4 linked regions of the Homo sapiens genome follow. The gene in region 3 interacts genetically with the main gene of each other region. Each region holds a gene or a part of one and is shown on either strand. Other genes may lie near its edges.

Evidence for each region.
Region 1: changes in NRAS (region 3) and SLC7A1 together harm fitness more than expected from each alone (negative genetic interaction), as found in Homo sapiens cells (one study listed by BioGRID).
Region 2: changes in NRAS (region 3) and EXOC3 together harm fitness more than expected from each alone (negative genetic interaction), as found in Homo sapiens cells (one study listed by BioGRID).
Region 4: changes in NRAS (region 3) and ATP1A1 together harm fitness more than expected from each alone (negative genetic interaction), as found in Homo sapiens cells (one study listed by BioGRID).

What each region holds. Positions count from the first base shown.
Region 1 is NC_000013.11:29,529,445-29,533,188, reverse strand, and holds part of SLC7A1 (high affinity cationic amino acid transporter 1), read left to right. Parts: intron 1-206; coding exon 207-365; intron 366-2,476; coding exon 2,477-2,651; intron 2,652-3,744. UniProt on the Homo sapiens protein: High-affinity, low capacity permease involved in the transport of the cationic amino acids (arginine, lysine and ornithine) in non-hepatic tissues.
Region 2 is NC_000005.10:446,176-449,919, reverse strand, and holds part of EXOC3 (exocyst complex component 3), read right to left. Parts: 5' UTR 3,715-3,744; coding exon 3,571-3,714; intron 3,100-3,570; exon of another isoform or gene 2,712-3,099; intron 2,582-2,711; exon of another isoform or gene 2,528-2,581; intron 2,388-2,527; coding exon 2,168-2,387; intron 1-2,167. UniProt on the Homo sapiens protein: Component of the exocyst complex involved in the docking of exocytic vesicles with fusion sites on the plasma membrane.
Region 3 is NC_000001.11:114,706,507-114,710,485, reverse strand, and holds part of NRAS (GTPase NRas), read left to right. Parts: intron 1-757; coding exon 758-917; intron 918-1,831; coding exon 1,832-1,951; 3' UTR 1,952-1,955; intron 1,956-2,293; 3' UTR 2,294-2,332; intron 2,333-2,435; 3' UTR 2,436-3,979. UniProt on the Homo sapiens protein: Ras proteins bind GDP/GTP and possess intrinsic GTPase activity.
Region 4 is NC_000001.11:116,397,244-116,400,987, forward strand, and holds part of ATP1A1 (sodium/potassium-transporting ATPase subunit alpha-1), read left to right. Parts: intron 1-644; coding exon 645-795; intron 796-1,377; coding exon 1,378-1,546; intron 1,547-1,686; coding exon 1,687-1,841; exon of another isoform or gene 1,842-2,071; intron 2,072-2,176; coding exon 2,177-2,300; intron 2,301-3,617; coding exon 3,618-3,744. UniProt on the Homo sapiens protein: This is the catalytic component of the active enzyme, which catalyzes the hydrolysis of ATP coupled with the exchange of sodium and potassium ions across the plasma membrane.

The DNA.
Region 1 (3,744 bases), on a different chromosome or scaffold from region 3:
CTCTGTAGGCCCTAGAAGCCTTCTCGCACTTAGCACTAGTCGACCGTCACTTCTGGCTCAGCATACACTGTGGTCTGGCTGCTGCTGCCAGATTCCAGTGCACCGTCGGTGACTCCTGCAATGATGTTATCAACATGGAGCTCCACTACAAATACCTGGCTAACAGTTGTCCTCACATCTCCTCTGTTGTGTGTGCTTTGTGGCAGGTACTTCAAGCGTAGCGAGGGCCTGGAGCGCCACCTTCGACGAGCTGATAGGCAGACCCATCGGGGAGTTCTCACGGACACACATGACTCTGAACGCCCCCGGCGTGCTGGCTGAAAACCCCGACATATTCGCAGTGATCATAATTCTCATCTTGACAGGTAAAGCCCACACTTAAAAAGAGATCGGGTCAGAGTGATGGGCAAAGGTTTGGTGAGAGGCTCCTGTTAAGTTCCTTTCTTTACTTATCTCTTTAACCATAACCCCCATTTCTTTTTGTTTTGTTTTTGTACTGCATGCAGGCATCTTTATTTGTTCCTGTCTTCATTGCTTCTTATAGATTCAGATAGGGCCGGCCTGCTTCATAGCTGTTGAATTGTGTGCCATTTCATTAAAAGAGAATCTTAGGTGTTTAGCCTAGCTGTTTGTGGAATAAGATTTTGTCTGCACTGCAGGCTTTTTGTGTGAGTGTCCTGGGAATAAAAGTTCTTTTGACTCAGTGGATGACCATTTGGAAAGCAAAACTGTCATTCATCAGCCAGGAAAATGTGGAGGAATGAGCTCCGTCTGGAACACTAATGTGTGCCTGGGGCGTCTGAAGATGACTTGGATGGTTTTTACACCTAACAACCATCAAAACACCCTTTCAGTAAATAAGTTTCATGACAGAGTTGTGGTTACAGAATTTGAAAAATCCCAGAGACTGCCTGAACACAGCTGATGGCAACTTCTTGCTAGTGACATTTGTGCGTGTCTTGGCCAGTGCAGCGCGAGTTTTGCTCTGTGGGGCTCCATAAACATGAAGCTGAAATGCAGATAAATTCTCATTTGGGGTTAGAAAATCTTGGATGAGTTTTAAAAATGACATGCCTTATTTTACACACCACATAATTGAAATAACTTCACTCAGGCTGGTCTCAGCAGTATTTCTGGTCCAGCTGGCAGAAACATGCATCAGAAAGTAAGTCTGCACTAGTGAGATTTCATTTTAATAAACCTGAGAGGGAGGGACACTAAAGAAACAATATATTGTTGTTTGTTGAGGTGTTCTCCCTGTGATTAATTACACAATTCTCTTCTAACATCTGTACTTTATAATTCAATCTCAAAAGTACAGCAGTTTTTATTTTATTTTATTTTATTTTATATTTGAGACAGAGTCTTGTTCTGTCACCCAGGCTGGAGTGCAGTTGCGCGATCTTGGCTCACTGCAACCTCTGCCTCCTGGGTTCAAGCGATTCTCACACCTCAGCCTCCCCAGTAGCTGCGATTACAGACACGCACCACCACACCCAGTTAATCTTTTATATTTTTAGTAGAGGTAAGGTTTTGCCATATTGGCCAGGCTGGTCTGGAACTCCTGACCTCAAAAGATCTGCCTGCTTCCCAAAGTATTGGGATTACAGGCGTGAGCGACCGCACCTAGCCAATTTTTATTTTAAAACGATGAGAGGCGTCCATGGCAGAGCAGTGGTCTCAAATCCTGGCTGTGTTCGAGTGGTACCAACCCCTTCTGTGCCACTTTTCTTGCCCAGCAGAGAGTTCAGCTATGGAAGTACCCGAATGACCTCTTCACCCTAAGGTGGTGCTGGGGCATGTGCCTCAAAGGCAGTGCTGTCAGAGGTTCCTGGGCATCTTTATTACTTATAGTTTTCTTTAAAAAAAAAACGTGAGTTTGCAAGCTAGAGCTAGCCTAGCTCAGATGTTATTTTATATGCACTGAGTCCAACGAAGAACCATGTGTGTTAGTGGTTCCAGAACCATAGCTAGTTGTTATTGTTAATATCACTAACATCCCAAAGTCAACCAGAATAATTTCCTCTTCTGAAAAATGTCCATTCTCCCAGGAAACTATGCAAAGTCTTTCTTCCTGGAATTGTTCCTAGAGGTTGTTTCCCAGCAACGCATCCTTTTAGTGAGAGGGAGCGGCTTGGTGTGCGGGTCCAGGCTTTCCCCTCCCTATGAGAGGGGCTCATGCTCCAGATCTCTGCAGTTCTCGGGTGCCCCTTGGGTGGGCTTCTCAGTTCCCAAGGGTATCTGGAGGTCACCTAGGAGGGCCTGGGAAGCACCCACAACCTTGGTGATTTAAACCCCTGATCCCCGCCCCCAGAAAGATAATTAATCCACCCCATTCCCAGAGGCTCACAGAGGTCTGCAGAGGCTCGATGCACTTGGATTCTTTTTCAGTCGCCTTCTTATCCCCATCCAGGAAGGACCTTCCCAGTTTGTGGTTAACACTCAGACAAAGTTTTGTGTCTATGCACTTTTTCAGGACTTTTAACTCTTGGTGTGAAAGAGTCGGCCATGGTCAACAAAATATTCACTTGTATTAACGTCCTGGTCCTGGGCTTCATAATGGTGTCAGGATTTGTGAAAGGATCGGTTAAAAACTGGCAGCTCACGGAGGAGGATTTTGGGAACACATCAGGCCGTCTCTGTTTGAACAAGTGAGTTGCTGCTTCTGACCATTTTTCTTAGTTGACATTTAATGACATAGATTGTATGGGGGATATAACTGGCTAGGATGGCATGTGCTTTTAAGAAAACATTATTTGAGGATATTTTGTTAATTGTTTTGTGTTTTTGCAGTGAAGTAGCTGAGGGTATTTTGTATGTATCAAGTTTGTGTGAAGGTTTATTCCCCTGAAATGGAAAGACTATTGTATGACAAGAAAGACTGAGGAAAAGAAAATCATCACCCTAATTCCAAATTGTGTATCATTCAGGATTCTTGTCAGACTCATTAAATGATCCCTCTTTCCCCAGATTCTGTTTGATGGCCAACTTTGGAATTTTGTGTTCAGAAAAGATTTTTCTCTGCAGTGCCGTGGTGACCTCACTTCACCTTTAAATACCTTCCTATTAGATTAATAATGTAGAGGGAAGAGAAATAGGTGAAACTATTTTTGAAGGTTTTCAGAATGACTGAAGTGTCAGAATGTGAGCACAATAGTCTTTCGCCGACATTTGACTTGTGCTGCTCAAGCCCTGGCGACAGTGGCCCCATCACCCTCATGTCTCTGACACAGACATCCGGAACTGGAGGTGACAGCTCCACCCTGTGCCATCTCAGGTCTCTCGCCCAGCCCTCATTGAAAGCTCAGATAACCTAGGAAAAAAAAGCCAAACAGTCATATCTTTTTTATCTTTGTTGTCAGATCTCCATGTAATTCTTTAGGTCTCAGGATGGACAATGGGGACTTGGATTTTGTGTGTGATTCTTCATTAAGACTGAAGGTTGAAACTGCTATGATAAAGAGACCCCCTCCAACTGCCACAATGGAGTGTGGCTTTAAAGAAGAGATGTTTCCAGTCCTGAAGTGAGCAGTCCGCGTTGGCTGGCCAGCTTTGCCACAGGCCTCTGTGGACCTAGACATCTTCTGTCTTGCTCCATCTTCCCCCAGGACATTGTCCTCATCTGCCTGGTCAGAGCTGGCTGTAGGCACGAGCATGACCCAGCTCTTCCAGAAGGGAAAAGAGAGCGTAGAGGAGAGTGCTCAGGTCTGTTCAGGACAGACCAGAAGACACACAGACATTCCA
Region 2 (3,744 bases), on a different chromosome or scaffold from region 3:
ACGAATCAGAAACCTCACACACTCATGGTGGAAAATGCTGCAGCCACCGGAGGAAACAGTCTGGCAGCTGCTCAAAGATTTAAACATAAATTACCACATGGTCCAGCAATTACACTTGTGTGTATATACCAGAAAGAAATAAAAGTAAAACATCTGTACACCCATGTTCACTACAGCATTATTCACAATAGCTAAAACGTGGAAGCAATTCAAATGTCCACCAACAGACAAACGGATAAGCAAAATGTGGTCCATCCATACAATGGAATATTATTCAGCCTTAAAAGTGAAGGAAATTCTACAATACCACAGCATAGAAGACCCCTGAGGACATCATGCTGAGTGAAATAAGCATGTCACAGAAAGACAGATAATGTGTGATGCCACTTCTATGAGGTCTTCAGAGTCATCCAATTCACAGAGACAGAAGGCAGAATGGTGGTGACCAGGAGCTGGGGCAGAGGGTGCGAAGTCAGTGTTTAATGGGTACAGATTTTCATGTCTGCAAGATGAAAAGAGTTCTGAAGACGGATGTGGCAATGGTTGCACAACAATATGAATGTTCTTAATAGTCCCCAACTGTACACTTAAAAATGGTTAAGACGGCAAACTGTACATATGCATTTTAGAAGAAGAAAAAATGGGGGAGGGGAGCTGTGTACACAGCATTGCTGAGTTATAGGCAATGAGACAAGTCTGAAGGCAACCAAACCAATCTTCTCAATGAAAATTTATCCGTAACAAAAAACATGCATACCACGCAGGCTCATTTGTTCACCAAGGAAAGGAAATTATTTTCAACTGCTGTGGATAAACTAATTCCAGTAATGCACCTTTTTGGTCATCAGGCATTAGTTTAAAAGACCGGAAGGAAATGTAGCCAGCCAATACGAAATAAGAGGAAATTAACTAGAAAGCTGCCAGCTGAGCATCACCAAGGAGACTCCGTCGAGAGGACTTTATTCCTGTTCCAGGCGGCCCACAGTCACCAAGAAGAGCTGCTTTCTGAGTTGGCAGCACAGTGGCGTTCGTGTTGGGCATGCACAAAGAGACACGGACTGCAGCCACACATGTGACCCTACGGATCATGCCCTGGAAGAAGGGCACACACAAAGCAACGGGACAAGGTGCTCGGCAATGCTGCAGCCGCAAGCACGAGAGGAGGGCAGAGAGGACAGGGTGGACGGGACACGGATTACCAAGGTGCGCTGTGGGCAGCTGGGGAGAACCGCGCCAATTCACACGTGGCCTCAGGAGCCGAGCAGCGTCACAGATGATGCAGCACAGCCACTGTGAAGGGTGAGCTGGGGCACGTGACGGCTGGGGATGGGGAAGTGTCATACAGACATCAGGGCAGAGACGTCTGGTAGAGGAACAGGAAGAACTTGCCAAGAGGCCAGAGACAGGAACAAAGAAAGGGAAGGAATCAGACCCTGCCAAGGCTTCTGAGTTGGGGACTGGAAGGATGCTGCTGACCTTGACACAGAGCGGGGACCAAGGGGAGGGATGAGGCTGTGGAAGCAGCTCCTGTCACAGCAAGCAGGAGGAGACTGTGAACACAAATGCTGGGAGCCACCACCCAGGGCCAGCTGGCACCGTTCAGGGACAGGTTACAGGGCCCTTGGCATCCTTCTAACTGAGGCATTCAGGGAGAAGACTGAAAGGGTCACTCCCCCACGGCGCTCAGCCCCGCCTCTGCCCTGGCCTGTGCACACACGCTTCTCCTCCTGCCTGGGAGCTGCTGCTCGCCTCAACCCTTCTGCTCTGGGATCTGCTTGCTCTGTCCCATGCACAGGGTGGCTTCTCCTGCAGCTCCTTTTAAGCATGGGCCACGGCGTCTTCATTCTTCTGCACTCACAGAGTCTAACAGCCACATCGCAAGCAAGGGAACGACACTCAGCCAGGGAATCCCTCCACACTGCATTTGCTGGGCAGCCCGCTTCTGGGCCTCTGTCCTGACACTGAACTACAAGCCTTCTCCTAGCCTTTACATGCTCAGCTGATCACTTCCATCCACGTTCAAAAAAAGACGCTGAGCAGACAAGAATCACACTTACCGTCTACAGGTCTACAGTGCGGGCTGCAAAGCACACTGCACACAGAGCACTCAGTGAGTCATGCAAAGACAGCGTGAGTGGGGGCAAGTGCCTCGGCGTCTGGCTGGTACCTGAGAAGATGTTCTTGAGGTTCTCCACGGCTGCGGCGAGCTGGCTGTGCTGCACCACGGCGTCTTTGACGTCCTTGAGGCTCTCAATGGTGTTGATGCTCTGCCTCCAGTCCTTGCTGACGTCTGCCAGCGACTGCTGGATGTCTTTGACGTCATTCAGGGCGTTGTGGAGCTGGCTGAGGCCTGTGCGCACCCCGTCCAACTGTGACTGGATGGCGGCCTAAAGAGAGACGCCACACGGGTGAGCAGAGCCAATGATAGCCATGCGCTGCCTCCTGAAGAACAAATCTTCCCCAGGAGGGTCAAGTTCAGGAAAGAGCCACTGAGTAGCAGGAAACAGTCAATACCCAGAAAAGAAAATAAAATCAACAAGGATTTAATTGATTCACAGTGTACCTTTTTCTTCATTGCTGCCTGGGAACAGAACAATGATGCATTTTAAAGCCTTGATGAGAAAAGGTCAGGACACTCCTCATCTAGCCTCACACCTGGTGATCCTGGACACTACCACGGGTCTGCCCTGGGCCGTGGCCTGCTACGGTACCTTCAGAAGGATGTCACCCATGCTCTCCCAGGCATCCTAGGTTCCTAAAAGGTCTTGTCTAGGCAGAGAGAACGGTCAGGACTTCACTGGCTTGGGGTGGGGGAGTTCCTGCTGTTCAGCCAGCACCACACTTGGCCCCAGGACGGCTGACCCACAGGACAGAATCGGCACCTGAGCTTCAGATCCGCTCTCTGTCAAATGTGAGTTAAAACAATCTGAACAAAATGCCCTCTAGTGGTGCTCTGTAGAAGAGCTTTAAATAAGACTACTTCTCCTTCCTCCAGTATTGTTTAAAAACTTAATAGACACTTTCAGGGTGTTGTTTTTGTTTCTGTGTTTTTTTTTTCTTTTTGAGACAGAGTCTCACTCTGTTGCCCAGGCTGGAATGCAATGGCACCATCTCGGCTCACCGCAACCTCTGCCTCCTGGGTTCAAGCGATTCTCTTGCCTCAGCCTCCCAAGTAGCTGGGATTACAGGCGTCAACCATCATGCCTGGCTAATTTTTGTATTTTCATAGAGACAGGGTTTCACCATGTTGACCAGGCTGGTCTTGAACTCCTGACCTCAGGTGATCCGCCTGCCTCGGCCTCCCCGAGGTGCTGGGATTACAGGCATGAGTCACCGCACCCGGCCTCAGGGTGTTTAAAAGCTTGTTCCTTTGGTGTTTTCACCATTCCCACTGTCTTCTAAGCAAAGCTACTGAGTGGTAATACACTGCTGAAAGTAACTGCTCAAGAAAGTCCAGCTCTGCCTCCTTGCACATTACCATAAAGGCTAGTTTAGCAAAATCATCATGGTGATGTCAAGCAAGAACCTGAAGCCCAAGACAGATCCTGGGAGTGGGGCAGGTGGCCTCACCTTCAATCTGGCCTCCACGGAGGCCTTCTTCCGCGCTTCTCTCCTGCGATACTGCTCCACCTTGTCCAGCTGGTCCGGGCGCTGGAGCATCCCAGCAACCCTTTGCACTGCTGTCGCAACGGCCTCCCGGTCTGTCTCCTTCATGGTGAAAAAGCTGGTGGAATCCTCACACTG
Region 3 (3,979 bases):
GAGTGCAGTGGAACAATTATGGCTCACTGCAGCCTTGACCTTTCTGGACCCAGGTGATCCTCCCACCTCAGTCTCCCAATTAGCTGGGACTACAGGCATGCGCCACCACACCCAGCTATAATATATATTGTATATATATTTTTTATTTATAAATATATATAAATATATATTTATATGTGTAAATTATATATATTTATATATTATAAATTATATATAAATATATATTTATATATAATATATATAATATATATTTATTTTTATATATTTTATATATATTTTTTGGGGGGGGTTGGGGGGGATGGAGTCTCACTCTGTCGCCCAGGCTAGAGTGTAGTGGCGTGATCTTGGCTCACTGCAATCTTCGCCTCCCAGGTTCAAGCGATTCTCCTGCCTCAGCTTCCCGAGTAGCTGGGACTATAGGCGCCTGCCACCACACCTGGCTAATTTTTGTATTTTTAGTAGAGATGGGGTTTCACCATATTGGCCAGGCTGGTCTTCAACTCCTGACCTTGTGATCTGCCCACCTCAACCTCCCAAAGTGCTGGGAATACAGGCATGAGCCACTGCACCCAGCCTAATCTTTGTATTTTTTTGTAGAGACCGGGTTTTGCCATGTTGCCCAGGCTAATCTCAAACTCCTGGGTTCAAGCAGTCTGCCCTCCTCAGCCTCCCAAAGTGCTGAGATTGCAGGCATGAGCCACTGTACCCAGCCTAATCTTGTTTTTCTTATGTTCTGATAATATATTCCCGTTTTTAGGGAGCAGATTAAGCGAGTAAAAGACTCGGATGATGTACCTATGGTGCTAGTGGGAAACAAGTGTGATTTGCCAACAAGGACAGTTGATACAAAACAAGCCCACGAACTGGCCAAGAGTTACGGGATTCCATTCATTGAAACCTCAGCCAAGACCAGACAGGTATGGTACAGCTTTCAGCATTTGTGCAAGAGTTTGCATCAGTTGATTAACTCTGGTAGAGATGTGATCCATATTCATATTCTTTGTTGTTATGCATTTTTTTCATTTTTATTTTTTTATTTTTTATTTTTTTTTAGGCAGAGTCTCACTCTATCTTCTAAGCTGGAGTGCAGTGGTGTGATCTCAGCTCACTGCAGCCTCTGTCTCTTGGGTTCAAGTGATTCTCCTGCCTCAGCCTCCCAAGTAGCTGGGACTACGGGCACATCATCATGCCCGGCTAATTTTTGTACTTTTAGTAGAGACAGGGTTTTACCATGTTGCCCAGGCTGGTCTCGAACTCCTGGCCTCAAGCAATCCTCCCACCTGGGCCTCCCAGAGTGCTGGGATTACAGGTGTGAGCCACCACGCCCAGCCTGTTGTTAGGCATTTTTAGTAGTGTTCTTTTTCTTAACGCTTGTTTAAACCCAAAATGAACTTACTAATATTCTGTTATGGCATGTTTACTCCTGCATTAACATCCACAAATATTTCTTGGGAAGATCCTTGACTAAAAATATTTATAAACATTAGTTATTTCTCTGTCAACACCAGCCCGTTTATGGCTTAAGCCTCCTGAATGGAGTCTTTAGTTTAATGTAGTTTTGTTCCGTGTTTCTCACATTACCCTTTTCCTTTGCATGAATGTTTATTTGGCAAAATGTGCCATTTTTATATCAGCCTGTTCTTGTGATTCAATAGGAATGTGAAATTTAGTGTTCTCTTCCTTAAATCACCATATTTTATTTTATCAGCTATTCGTTTAGTAATTGGAATCTTATGTCCACATAAAGAGATACAAATGCAAGAGAGCTTATAATTTGGATTGTGTCCGTTGAGCTAGCTCTCTCATTTTTTTTCATTTTTTCCTTTTATAGGGTGTTGAAGATGCTTTTTACACACTGGTAAGAGAAATACGCCAGTACCGAATGAAAAAACTCAACAGCAGTGATGATGGGACTCAGGGTTGTATGGGATTGCCATGTGTGGTGATGTAACAAGGTGAGCATATGGTTTCTTGGCATAATTACAAATCTTAGTATATAGTATTGGGCAATTTGGAGGAGTGCTGGTGTTATTGTCTATATGTTTTTTGAGTTTCTGCCTATCCTCTTCTGCACATTTTCCATATGACACCCTTTCTGAAAGTACTGAGGTCTAAAGTGTTTAAAACATTTGATTATTCCACAGGTATCTTTATATTTTTGGTAACATTAGAAATTATAAGACATTATTTATGAAATGTAGGCATACCCTATTCCTGGCAATGACCAGGAATTTGAAGGATCACTACTTTGAAACTAGTTAATAAGGACATGGTTTCTGTTCTTTTTTTACAGATACTTTTAAAGTTTTGTCAGAAAAGAGCCACTTTCAAGGTAGGACAAGTTTGGAAATGTATTCTCATTCCTGTTAATTTTGTATATTTGTTTTTCTTATACTCTGAATGTGTCACTTATACAAATTCTGTTTCTATTTCAGCTGCACTGACACCCTGGTCCTGACTTCCCTGGAGGAGAAGTATTCCTGTTGCTGTCTTCAGTCTCACAGAGAAGCTCCTGCTACTTCCCCAGCTCTCAGTAGTTTAGTACAATAATCTCTATTTGAGAAGTTCTCAGAATAACTACCTCCTCACTTGGCTGTCTGACCAGAGAATGCACCTCTTGTTACTCCCTGTTATTTTTCTGCCCTGGGTTCTTCCACAGCACAAACACACCTCTGCCACCCCAGGTTTTTCATCTGAAAAGCAGTTCATGTCTGAAACAGAGAACCAAACCGCAAACGTGAAATTCTATTGAAAACAGTGTCTTGAGCTCTAAAGTAGCAACTGCTGGTGATTTTTTTTTTCTTTTTACTGTTGAACTTAGAACTATGCTAATTTTTGGAGAAATGTCATAAATTACTGTTTTGCCAAGAATATAGTTATTATTGCTGTTTGGTTTGTTTATAATGTTATCGGCTCTATTCTCTAAACTGGCATCTGCTCTAGATTCATAAATACAAAAATGAATACTGAATTTTGAGTCTATCCTAGTCTTCACAACTTTGACGTAATTAAATCCAACTTTCACAGTGAAGTGCCTTTTTCCTAGAAGTGGTTTGTAGACTTCCTTTATAATATTTCAGTGGAATAGATGTCTCAAAAATCCTTATGCATGAAATGAATGTCTGAGATACGTCTGTGACTTATCTACCATTGAAGGAAAGCTATATCTATTTGAGAGCAGATGCCATTTTGTACATGTATGAAATTGGTTTTCCAGAGGCCTGTTTTGGGGCTTTCCCAGGAGAAAGATGAAACTGAAAGCACATGAATAATTTCACTTAATAATTTTTACCTAATCTCCACTTTTTTCATAGGTTACTACCTATACAATGTATGTAATTTGTTTCCCCTAGCTTACTGATAAACCTAATATTCAATGAACTTCCATTTGTATTCAAATTTGTGTCATACCAGAAAGCTCTACATTTGCAGATGTTCAAATATTGTAAAACTTTGGTGCATTGTTATTTAATAGCTGTGATCAGTGATTTTCAAACCTCAAATATAGTATATTAACAAATTACATTTTCACTGTATATCATGGTATCTTAATGATGTATATAATTGCCTTCAATCCCCTTCTCACCCCACCCTCTACAGCTTCCCCCACAGCAATAGGGGCTTGATTATTTCAGTTGAGTAAAGCATGGTGCTAATGGACCAGGGTCACAGTTTCAAAACTTGAACAATCCAGTTAGCATCACAGAGAAAGAAATTCTTCTGCATTTGCTCATTGCACCAGTAACTCCAGCTAGTAATTTTGCTAGGTAGCTGCAGTTAGCCCTGCAAGGAAAGAAGAGGTCAGTTAGCACAAACCCTTTACCATGACTGGAAAACTCAGTATCACGTATTTAAACATTTTTTTTTCTTTTAGCCATGTAGAAACTCTAAATTAAGCCAATATTCTCATTTGAGAATGAGGATGTCTCAGCTGAGAAACGTTTTAAATTCTCTTTATTCATAATGTTCTTTGAAGGGT
Region 4 (3,744 bases), 1.7 Mb from region 3:
TAGGGCCCTTTCACCCTATGTTACGGTTAGAGGAGGGTTTGGTCTTGTATCAGCTCTGCCACTTTCTAAAACTTGGTTATATTTCTTTTTTTCTTTGATGGAGTCTCGCTCTGTCATCCCGGTTGGAGTGCAGTGTCATGATCTTGGCTCACTGCAACCTCCACCTCCTGAGTTCAAGTGATTCTCCTGCCTCAGCCTCCCAAGTAGCTGGGATTACAGGCCCCAACCACCATGCCCGGCTAATTTTTGAATTTTTAGACCACCATTTTGGCAAGCTGGTCTCGAACTCCTGACCTCAAGTGATCCACTCACCTCAGCCTCCCAAAGTGCTGGGATTACAGGCATGAGCCACACACCCAGCTAAAACTTGGTTATATTTCAGCATGTCTAATAAAGATAGGGAAAGGAAGAATACAGACAGGCCTGCCTTAGAGATCATCATGAGCCTCAAATGAGATAAAATATATGAAAATGCTCTGTAACCTGTAAAGTACTGAACACTTAATAGCTTTTATGTGCTGGGGAAAATTCCTTCTTTGTTTTGTTTACAAAGTGATCTGCATAAGAATATCCCCTCTTGAGGTGATGGACACATGCTGGTGATGTGATGCGTGACTTTTTTTTTTTTTTTGTCCTAATTCTAGGGATGCCAAGGCCTGCGTAGTACACGGCAGTGATCTAAAGGACATGACCTCCGAGCAGCTGGATGACATTTTGAAGTACCACACTGAGATAGTGTTTGCCAGGACCTCCCCTCAGCAGAAGCTCATCATTGTGGAAGGCTGCCAAAGACAGGTCAGCCAGCACAAGGATCAGGCTGCTTTGGGCACTATTGGCTTTAGGGATTGGAGTTCCAGTGGAAACAGAGCAACGGTGATGGATGGATGCATACCTCGCTGTATTAGACTCAGTATAAATAGGCCAGTAGGAAGCTCATAGGCATAGAGAGGGTGACTTGTTAATGGTTTAGCAGTGACAGAAGCACTTTAAAGTCCAGGTGTCCACTGTGTCCCAGAGCCTGACCGCTCCGTGGAGTCATCTGATATGGGGTCCTAGTATTTGCAATAGAGATGTGAGTGGTCAGACTACAGGGCGTGCATACAGGAATGGCATTTTCTGGAGTGCCACCCACCAGAGTCATTACTTTGAGTAGCTCTTGTTAATGCTGGGGGCTATGTTTGTTGTCACTTCTCAGTTCTGTTATTTGGTGTAGGGCCTGTGTGAATACTTGCCTGTGACGGTTCTCAGGCTTCATAAATAGTCTCAATAGGAAAGGAGCAGTGTCTGTAATGAGTGCTCAGTGGGGGCATGCATCGCACTATTTCCATCGCTAGGAAAAGTGATTGGTATTAACCCGTTTTCCCTTTTCTGGGGTAGGGTGCTATCGTGGCTGTGACTGGTGACGGTGTGAATGACTCTCCAGCTTTGAAGAAAGCAGACATTGGGGTTGCTATGGGGATTGCTGGCTCAGATGTGTCCAAGCAAGCTGCTGACATGATTCTTCTGGATGACAACTTTGCCTCAATTGTGACTGGAGTAGAGGAAGGTGAGAGCTATTTAAGGTGTACACCAAGATCTTATTCAGATACTGCCCATTAGCATCCATTTCTGTATACTTCTTGGATATGTTCAGTTTCCAGTGTGCTTGTCTCATAAGCTAACAGTAAAAAATCTTGGTTTTCATAGGTCGTCTGATCTTTGATAACTTGAAGAAATCCATTGCTTATACCTTAACCAGTAACATTCCCGAGATCACCCCGTTCCTGATATTTATTATTGCAAACATTCCACTACCACTGGGGACTGTCACCATCCTCTGCATTGACTTGGGCACTGACATGGTGAGTGTCACAACAGTCACAGATCGATAGTAGTGAGGTGTGAGCTGTGTCTTCATTCACTGGCACTATGCTCCCAGCATCCATGAGGCTGGCGTTGGGAAAAGAAATTCTCAGGACCAGTATCCAGTGTGTGTCCCAATCCCGGCTTCACAGAATCAGTATTACCACTCTTCAAGGCAGCAGTTAACATTTGTTTATCAGATGGGAATCTTTATTTTTGTATACTTCACCTAAAAGATTTTTAAATGGGAGGGCAAGAATTTTATAACAAAAGGTTCACAATATTAGCTTCCTTATTTTTAGTAACTAAATTCCTTCTCCCCACCCCTTCCCAGGTTCCTGCCATCTCCCTGGCTTATGAGCAGGCTGAGAGTGACATCATGAAGAGACAGCCCAGAAATCCCAAAACAGACAAACTTGTGAATGAGCGGCTGATCAGCATGGCCTATGGGCAGATTGGTAAGCTGCAGCCTGGAGTGGGAAGCTGGCACATCTAAGGCATCTGAGGTGATGGTGTCCACCTCAGGTTGAGGTTGATTTCAGAGACTGCAAATCCAGGCGACTTTCAGGTCTAGGATGAGCCCTAACGGAGTGAGCCTGTGGAGTTTCTCTGAACTCTCTTCCATGTGAGAATACATCTGTTGCTGTTTGCCCAGTTACCTTTTGTGGAAACTGGTTTTCTATACTGAGCACCTTGGAACTGGGCTCAACTCTGCCTGAGAAATGAGGATGTCCTTCCTCACTGAGCCTTGCGGAACAGGAGGCATGGTTCTAAGGAATTGTGTGTACTGACGCACAGGCTGCTTTCCCTGGAGATACACACTTATCTGTCACTCACTTGGATGGAGTTAGGCATTGGAGAAAGTATATGTGTTTGAGAGTTTGGCTGGTAGGTCACCACCAAAGGGTGATCCTCCATCCACCTCACACTGGACTTCTGCCCCCACAGTGCAGCATGACTAGCTAACAGGTGATCCAGGTGGTGGGCAATCAGCATGCCATTTGTTTTTAAATCCTCTGCCTAGGGTTCCTTCAAGAGAACCTGGCAAAGCCACCATGGATGTCTTATTCTCCTGGATTAATGGGTCACATAACTGTGAACGCTTGGATAAAGAAGAACAGATTAGATAGAATATTGTGGAAATTATGGCAAAGATTCATTAGACAGTTGTTGGCAACAAAGTAATTGGCTGGTGGCCCATCCTGACCTTCTCCAAGGAGGCCTGCTTTTGAGAGGAAGGAAGACTAGGTCTCTGGTGGTTTAGGATGAAACCCTGCCCTGAGGAACTTGGAGCAGCGTGGTTAAATTGGATGCCAGGGGGAGGAGGGTCCTGAAGGTGGGGAGGAGAGTCAGAAAGTGCCACAGTGGCTAGAAAAATGGCAGCATGTAGGAATTTTGAAAGATGGAAAAGAAGTTATCATTTGTCAGAGATTAAAAAGTAGGGAAGTGGATTTCCCCTAAAGGTCATACCCTTAGAAGCAGCTGGTCAAGTAACAGGTGGGCATTTTGAGAGCAAGGCACATGTGTCTTTGTGTAGGCTCCAAAAAGTGACTCAAAAAGCAGAGGGCCCTGAGATTGGAGTGTATGCCTGGGGTCCTCCATCCCATCCCTCATAGCCTGTGAGTGACCAGGCAATTCTTTCCTGTGCTTTTATCAACCAGGGGGAAACACTCCTCCATATGTGCTCTCCCAGGCCTGCTGCAGTAATCAGCTGAAGGCTATACAGGTACCCTTGTGTGTGAGGTTCTAGTAATTGGGTTGTTTTCCCAACTTAGGAATGATCCAGGCCCTGGGAGGCTTCTTTACTTACTTTGTGATTCTGGCTGAGAACGGCTTCCTCCCAATTCACCTGTTGGGCCTCCGAGTGGACTGGGATGACCGCTGGATCAACGATGTGGAAGA